2 linked regions of the Homo sapiens genome follow. The protein of the gene in region 1 purifies or fractionates together with the protein of each later gene. This does not show direct contact. Each region holds a gene or a part of one and is shown on either strand. Other genes may lie near its edges.

Region 1 (3,752 bases):
TGTTTATGCCCCTGTAGGTATTTCTCCAACACTACTATCTCTGATCTAAAGTGAACAATCGAAACCTCACCAAGGATAAGATGATTCTCCCCCTCTCTCTTTGGTTCCAATTCTCTTTGAAGGAATCCCAATGTTCTCTAGACGTAACACTATAAGGCAGCGGTCCCCAATCTATATTTGGCACCAGGGACCAGTTTCGTGGAAGACAATTTTTCCACAGATGGGGGTTGGAGAGGGATGGTTTCGGGATGAAACTGTTCCAGCTCAGATCATCAGGCATTAGATTCTCATAAGGGGCACACAACGTAGATCCCTCACATGCGCAGTTCACAATAGAGTTTGCACTCCTGTGAGAATCTAATGCCGCTGCTGATCTATCAGAAGGTGGAGCTCAGGCGGTAATGCTTGCCAGCTTGCCCACCGCTCACCTCCTGCTGTGCAGCCCAGTTTCTAATGGGCTGAAGACCACCACTGGTCTGTGGCCCAGGGGGTTAAGGACCCCTGCAATAAGGCAGCATCATGAAATTTAAAAAAAAAAAAAAAATTGCAGCATCTCCAAGACTCCCCCGCTTATTGTCTCAGCACCAGGCACTATGATGACAATTTACACACTAATCATCATTTGATCCTCATAACACCTCTATGATGTAGGAATTATTAGCCCAGACTCTTGTGAAGGCCACAAAGGCTCACAGACATTATGTTAACTTATCCAAGATCACTAGAAGTGATAGAGCCACTGATTTTGAACCCAGGCCTCTCCAATTTCAAAGCCTACACTCTTTCTAGTGGGAAGAACACACTGCAGAGGTATACGGTTTCTGTCCAAACCCTGGACTTAGGGAGAGCTTCCTACAGTTTTTTCCCATCAGCCTGGCATTTCATTACCTAGAAGAGCTTTCCTTTTCCCAAACTCTGAGATTGTACTCAGGGATTTATGAAATTCAGAGACATAGTAATAGTTAAAAGAGGCACCTCTGAAGAATCCCAAACCTAATACTTCTCCATTTTACTTCCACCTTTAAAGCAAGTCCTCTGTATAAGTAAATGCTTCCCTAAATAGCAACTGTCCGTTCAGATTTCCAAACCTGTCTTAAAACATATCGCGCATGAGTTCACAACTATCTCTCACATGCAGCATAAAGTCTCTCGCTACCGTCCTGCTCACATTCTAATCATTCCCAAATAAGTCAATTCATTCCTTTATTCGACACTTATAACCACTTACTCTGTGTCAGGCACGATGCTGGCTTACCCTGTCTGCGTTTCTCAAGACACTTTAAGCTCCAAAAGGCTAAGAACCGTGTCTGTCTGGCCCAATTATGCCCTATCCATCCAGGCACCTCTCCTACCCTGCCTGGCAGAGTGCCCAAAAAAGGTCTGCTGAACGAATGAATGACAGCCCAAACTCCCTAGTGTAAAATCACAACATCCTCCACCCACTCTCCCCCAAAAGGTGGCAGGAGCATAACAGATGCCTTTGCTGATTACAAAAACCTAAAGACTCCATCATAGTCGTCCCCAGGCAGGGTATCACAATGAAAGAGGCAAAAGTGTCTGAAAAACACTGTGACGCATATTTCCAGCCCGGCATGGAGGACGTCTGCCAAAAGCATCCGGTAAAGGTCAACTGGGCTGCTGGGAAACCTGCCCCAGTGCGAGGGCCCGGAGGCCCAACGAGGCCAGAAGCCGTAGTCCCAAATTCAAGAACTACTAACAAGGACACAGGAGGCCTGAGAAGGCGGAAGAATTAGCCCTGACAGTCACTAGAGCGCAGTCCAGGAATGGGAGCGCAAGTAAGGCGAAGGTCCATCCAAATGGCTACCCTTCTCCCTTCTGTGAGTCTCCCGGTCCCCTGTCCCTAGCCCACCTCATTCATGGCCTCATCAACGTCCGTCCTCATTGAGGTGCCGAGAAGCCCTGTCTGCGGAGGGCTACCTGGGCTCCCAGACTTGGCACCAGAACACCCGCCAGAGAGGGGAGCTGGCAGATCTGGCCGGGACCGGGGTGGACCCTAGCGATCACTCCTCCCGTAACTCAGAGGTTACTGGCCTGGGCTGACCCGACCTGCTCGCCGGGACCGCGCGCTCACCTGCGGCCCAGCCCACACTCCCCAGTGCGGCCCCCGCTCTCCGCCCGCTCGCCGGGAGCACGGAAGTCGCCGCACCCAGCGGCCCGCGGGACCTTGCCCTGTGACCCTGCCCACTGGCCGCCGGCTCTCTCGGAGCGCAGGGATTGGCTGAACTTCAGCCAAAGGACGGAAGGAAGCTAGGCGTCCGCAACTGGGCCCCACTGCGCTGAAATGGACGTCGCGCCCTCTGTTGGCCGGGAGGTTTCTCAGTGATGTCGCCACGTGTTTTCTGCGTGGAAAAAGTGAAAGATCATCCAGTCATTTTTTTCAACTGATGTTTATTAGGCGTCTTCTAAGACCTAGGTCTGGGCACGCAAAAACAAAAGACATGATCCCTGACCTCAAGAAGCTCTTCTTAGAAGAGTATATTTTAGTGCTTTAAGACCTCTTGGGATCCGGGCTAGCTTTCTAGTGACCTTGGGAACATTATTAACCTGTCTGAGCCTCCCTTCCCCTTCTGTGTAGAGGTAATAACACCCATTTCGCAAGGATGGTGTGAGGGTTGGAAGAGATAATATTTGTAAAGTACTGTGGCAGGCACACAGCCAGCAGGGAAATAAATGTGGCTATTGTTAGTGTAAAAATAATTCAAATATAGTAAAACCTAAGTCTTACATGACCTCTTGGGTACAAGTATTCACTTCCTCCTCTGTGTCCCCACTGTACCCTATACAGACATCAATTTTATCATATACAGAAAAGTCCCAAAGCTCAAGCTTGTTAATGCTCCCACAAGGCCCTTCCCACCCTCATCCCACTAATCTCAGCCTGCATATTTATTTTGCTCGCACATACTAAACCCGGCAGACCACACTGTTTCACACCTCAGTGCCTTATTGATGCTTTTTCATCTACCTTCCCACCTTTTTTGTTGTTGTTGTTCAATTTCACTCTTGTTGCCTGGGCTGGAGTGCAATGGCGTGATCTCGGCTCACCGCAACCTCCGCCTCCCAGGTTCAAGTGATTCCCCTGCCTCAGCCTCCTGAGTAGCTGGGATCACAGGCATGCACCACCACGCCCGGCTAATTTTGTATTTTTAATAGAGAAGGGGTTTCTCCATGTTGGGGAAGCTGGTCTCGAACTCCCGACCTCAGGTGATCTGCCCGCATCGGCCTCCCAAAGTGCTGGGATTACAGGCGTGAGCCACTGCGCCTGGCCGCTTTTTTTTTTTTTTTTAACAGGACTCTCGCTCTGTTGCCCAGGCTAGAGTGCAGTGGCACAATCATAGCTCACTGCAGCCTCAACCTCCTGGGCTCAAGTGATCCTCCCACTTCAGCCTTCCGAGTAGCTGGGACCACAGATGCACACCACCAGGCCTGGCTAATTTTTGTACTTTTTGTAGAGACTGGGTTTCACCATGTTGCTAGGGCTGGTCTCGAACTCCTGAGCTCAAGCAATCCGCCCGCCTCAGCCTCCCAAAGTGCTGGGATTACAGGCATGAGCCACCGTGCCTGGCCATGTAGTGCCCTTCCCACCTTTCTTTACTATGCCAGATTGTGCTCTGGCACAATTTTCAAGCTTAAGGGTCACCTCCAGAGGAAGCCTCATACATAGACTGCTTATCACATTAGACACCCTTCCTCTATTATCTCAAACAGCTCAAAGCTAAGCTCTGGCAGTG
Region 2 (3,652 bases), on another chromosome or scaffold:
TAGTTATATTCCTAAGGAACAGTACATTATGAAAACCACATTTCATAGAGATGATTGGAAGAAAAGTGTACCTGGGGCTAGAGCATTTTTAGACTTGGAATAACAGCCTTTTCCTCTTTCCATAATTTGAGTATAAACGTCTTAAAAAAAAAAAACCAAGCACGGTATATTGCAGCAAAACCTAAACACCAAACAAATCTAGCACTAGATTGATTGTACTTGACTCCATCAGGTGTGGTCATGGGCTAGTTAACTTTCTGTCTCTCTTGTTTCCCTATGTGTGAGATGAGGATAATAGTGCTTACTTTATGAATTACTGTGAAGATGAATTGAAAACATGTAAATTGTAAGGGGCACAGAGTAAGTGCTGAGGAAATGTTTCTTGCAGTCATCATCACTGTGATTATCATAATTGGTTTCATTTGTTTGTCTATGATTTTTGTTTGTCAGTGGTGGTATGTTGCTTGAGAATGATGGTCTTTTTAAAAGTAGCCCACACTGTCATATCACATTTTACCATATACATTCTTATCACCCATTTTATGATAAAGTTCAGAACCAGTTAAACAGGGCTTTTGTTTGTGTGACTCCTGTGAGGTGACCAGGGACTAAGTGGGTCCAAGGTTGACTCTGTAAGCTGACTGACTTGGGCACTGCTGGAAAGAACTTCCCTGGTGTGGATCAGAAGTGCCTTAGAGTGTGGTGACAAATGAGAACACAGTCTAAGTCTTAACTCACCACTTACTAGTGATGACTTTACCTCCCAGCCCATTTCTTCTATAAAATGAGGTTGCTAGAAATGTCTCCTTTAAAAAGATGGCATTAGTCATATATCAGGCATTGATTTACTTTTTAGGTTGAAGCTCTTAAAAAGAATCATTATAGGTCTTAGAAAGTAAAGAAATAGAAAGTAGATTATTCTTCCAGCCCCCTTCCATGCCAGACATGCTTAGTTTTCCTTGTAACTCATTTGAATTAATATGTATGTAGGGCTTAGAGCAATGTTAGCTGCTACCATTATTAAATTATTTTACACTGATTTATATTTTTCTTTTACTTGCACATTTTATCCAAGTCTCCAGAAAAGTATACATCAAAGGTTTTACTTTAGAGGAGTTACTTAGAAATAGCTTTCATTTTACTACTCAATGGTAGAGCCGTCTTTCCAGAAGAATGTGGTAATGGTTTCTGTGAAATTTGTGGAATCATGTTTCAGTTGATGTTTATGATTTAGGTATGGTGACAAGATTAAGGTCTTATTAAGAGTAGTGGTAGGGTGATTTGTGAATAAAAACAAAGACCTATGTAACAGAATTTATTAATAGACCCCATGTTGAATTAAGCAGTTGTGTTTTAGCCACCTTTCAGGCTGTTACAGAGGTTGTATTTTTGTTACCTGTGTATTACAGGTTAAGTATGCCTTATCTGAAATGTTGGCACCAGAAGTATTTTAGATTTGGGATTTCTTAAGGATTTTGGAATATTTGCGTTAATACCTACTGGTTGAGCATCCCAAATCTGAAAATGGGAAATCCAAAATGCTCCAGTGAGCATTTCCTTTGAACATCTTGTTGGCACTAAAAACACTTTCTAATTTTGGAGCACTTCTGATTTCAGATTTTCAGATTTGAGATGCTCATCCTATGTTATAATCATTACACACATCACCTATTTAGTAAAAGCCAACATGTATATGTGCCCTGGTCTCATCTCTCAACCTTGCAAAATCTGTTACACAAAGGAAACCAGGAAGTCAAAGTTACCATTTTCACTTTATTATCTTACAAGCCAAGGTGCTAGGAAATCTTACATGAATGAATATATTTTGTCACAAATTTTTTTTTTTTTTTAATTGAGGTGGAGTTTGCTCTTGTCGTGCAGCTGGAGTGCAGTGGCTCAATCTTGGCTCACTGCAATCTCCGCCTCCCAGGTTCAAGCAATTCTCCTGCCTTAGCCTCCCGAGTTGCTGGAATTACAGGTTCCTGCCACCGTGCCCGGCTAATTTTTGTGTTTTTAGTAGAGACGGGGTTTCACCATGTTGGCCAGGCTGGTCTCGAACTGCTGACCTCAGGTGATCCACCAGCCTTGGCCTCCCAAAGTGCTGAGATTACTGGCGTGAACTACCAGGCCCGGCCACCACTGACTAATTTTATAACCTTGGACAAATCACTTTACCTCCAAAGACCTTAGTTATTTTATTTATTAAAAGATGTTTAGACAAGATGATTTTCTAATTTTCTTCCAGTTCAAAAATGAATAGAATTCTGAGTTACTTGTTCAACATCTTGTCTTTTAATGTTAGTCAACTCTTCCTTCCCTATTGAACTTGTCATATTGTTATCATAGAAGCCTATAACATATAAATGGGATTTTTGTATCCTACTGACATTTATTTCAGTTAATATGTAGTACAGGGGTTAAAAGCATGATTTTGCCACATACTAGAGGACAAATTATCAGTTTTCTTCTGCTGTAAAATGGGTATGATAGGAGTTACCTACTTTATAGAGTGATGTGAGGTTTAAATGCATTAATAACGTTTTAAGTACTTACAGTAGTGCTGTGTGCATACCAGGTGTTCAGTAAATGCTAGATGTTATGGTGTTGATGATTCATAATCTTCCTCATTGGAGATGTCCTGATACATTCTGAGTGTGGTTTTGATTTTTATTGATTTACTGAATGATTTCACCAGACAAGTTAGAATCTGGAAAACTATTGAAGATAAAAGTGGTCCTCAGAGCAGAAGCTAAGCAGTGTTATTGCAAATAGGTGATGCTTTTCTGTACATACTGAAATATAACGTGATTATTGAATCTGAGTTTTGGGTGTTGAAAGTGACCTTAGAAAGGGTGAGTCCCTGCTCTCTCATTTTACTTCTGTGGAAATTGAGGCCCAGGAAGTAATGTGACTCAGCCAAGGTGACATAGCTGCTTTATGCAAAGCCAGTTATCTTCATGTTTTTTCAGGATATTTGTTTTTCCCCAAATCTTGGCCATTGAGTGTTTAATGTACAATCCTTTTACGCCATTTAAACAATGGTATTGAATCTGGCTTTTGTTAAAGCATCTCACGAGAATCTTGATTTTAGCAGAATGTTGTTACTGCTGAAATATACCTTAAAAATAAGGAGAAACAGTCACAGGAAGGAAGCTGATATCCAGAAACATGAATTAATTTTAACTATGAGAAAAATCAATGCTGTCATTTTTATTCAGCTTGTTTTATTTTTACCGTGAATAAACTTGTTGGGTTCTCTCTGTGAGCATTATCTTAAATTGAATAGTCTCTTGAAACTAGCTGCGACCAGGAAGAGGCCCTCCAGGTAAAAAGCAGGACCTGAAAGCACTCTGAACTCTTTGAGATTTCTAGTTGGGAGAAATTGTTTCAAATGTTTGTATTTCTTTTTTAAAGAATACTTCTTTACTAAACATTGTCTTGAAAAAATTACTTTGAGAGTACTCATTACAAAGTTGGTTTTCTTGCATTGTATTTTGTTCATTGGCTTTTCATATTTGTCTTCAGTTACAGGTTTATGATAATGGATCGCTTTGGGAGTGACCTTCAGAAAATATATGAAGCAAATGCCAAAAGGTTTTCTCGGAAAACTGTCTTGCAGCTAAGCTTAAGAATTGTATGTGAGCTATGTTCT

Evidence for each region. Proteins that work in one complex are often made in the same cells at the same time.
Region 2: the proteins of SMIM12 (region 1) and VRK1 purify together in Homo sapiens (affinity purification with mass spectrometry; one large-scale study listed by BioGRID and IntAct). This does not show direct contact.

Annotation. Positions count from the first base shown.
Region 1 is NC_000001.11:34,857,585-34,861,336, forward strand, and holds the start of SMIM12 (small integral membrane protein 12), read right to left. Parts: upstream 2,166-3,752; 5' UTR 2,093-2,165; exon of another isoform or gene 1-2,092.
Region 2 is NC_000014.9:96,849,306-96,852,957, forward strand, and holds part of VRK1 (serine/threonine-protein kinase VRK1), read left to right. Parts: intron 1-3,525; coding exon 3,526-3,634; intron 3,635-3,652. UniProt on the Homo sapiens protein: Serine/threonine kinase involved in the regulation of key cellular processes including the cell cycle, nuclear condensation, transcription regulation, and DNA damage response.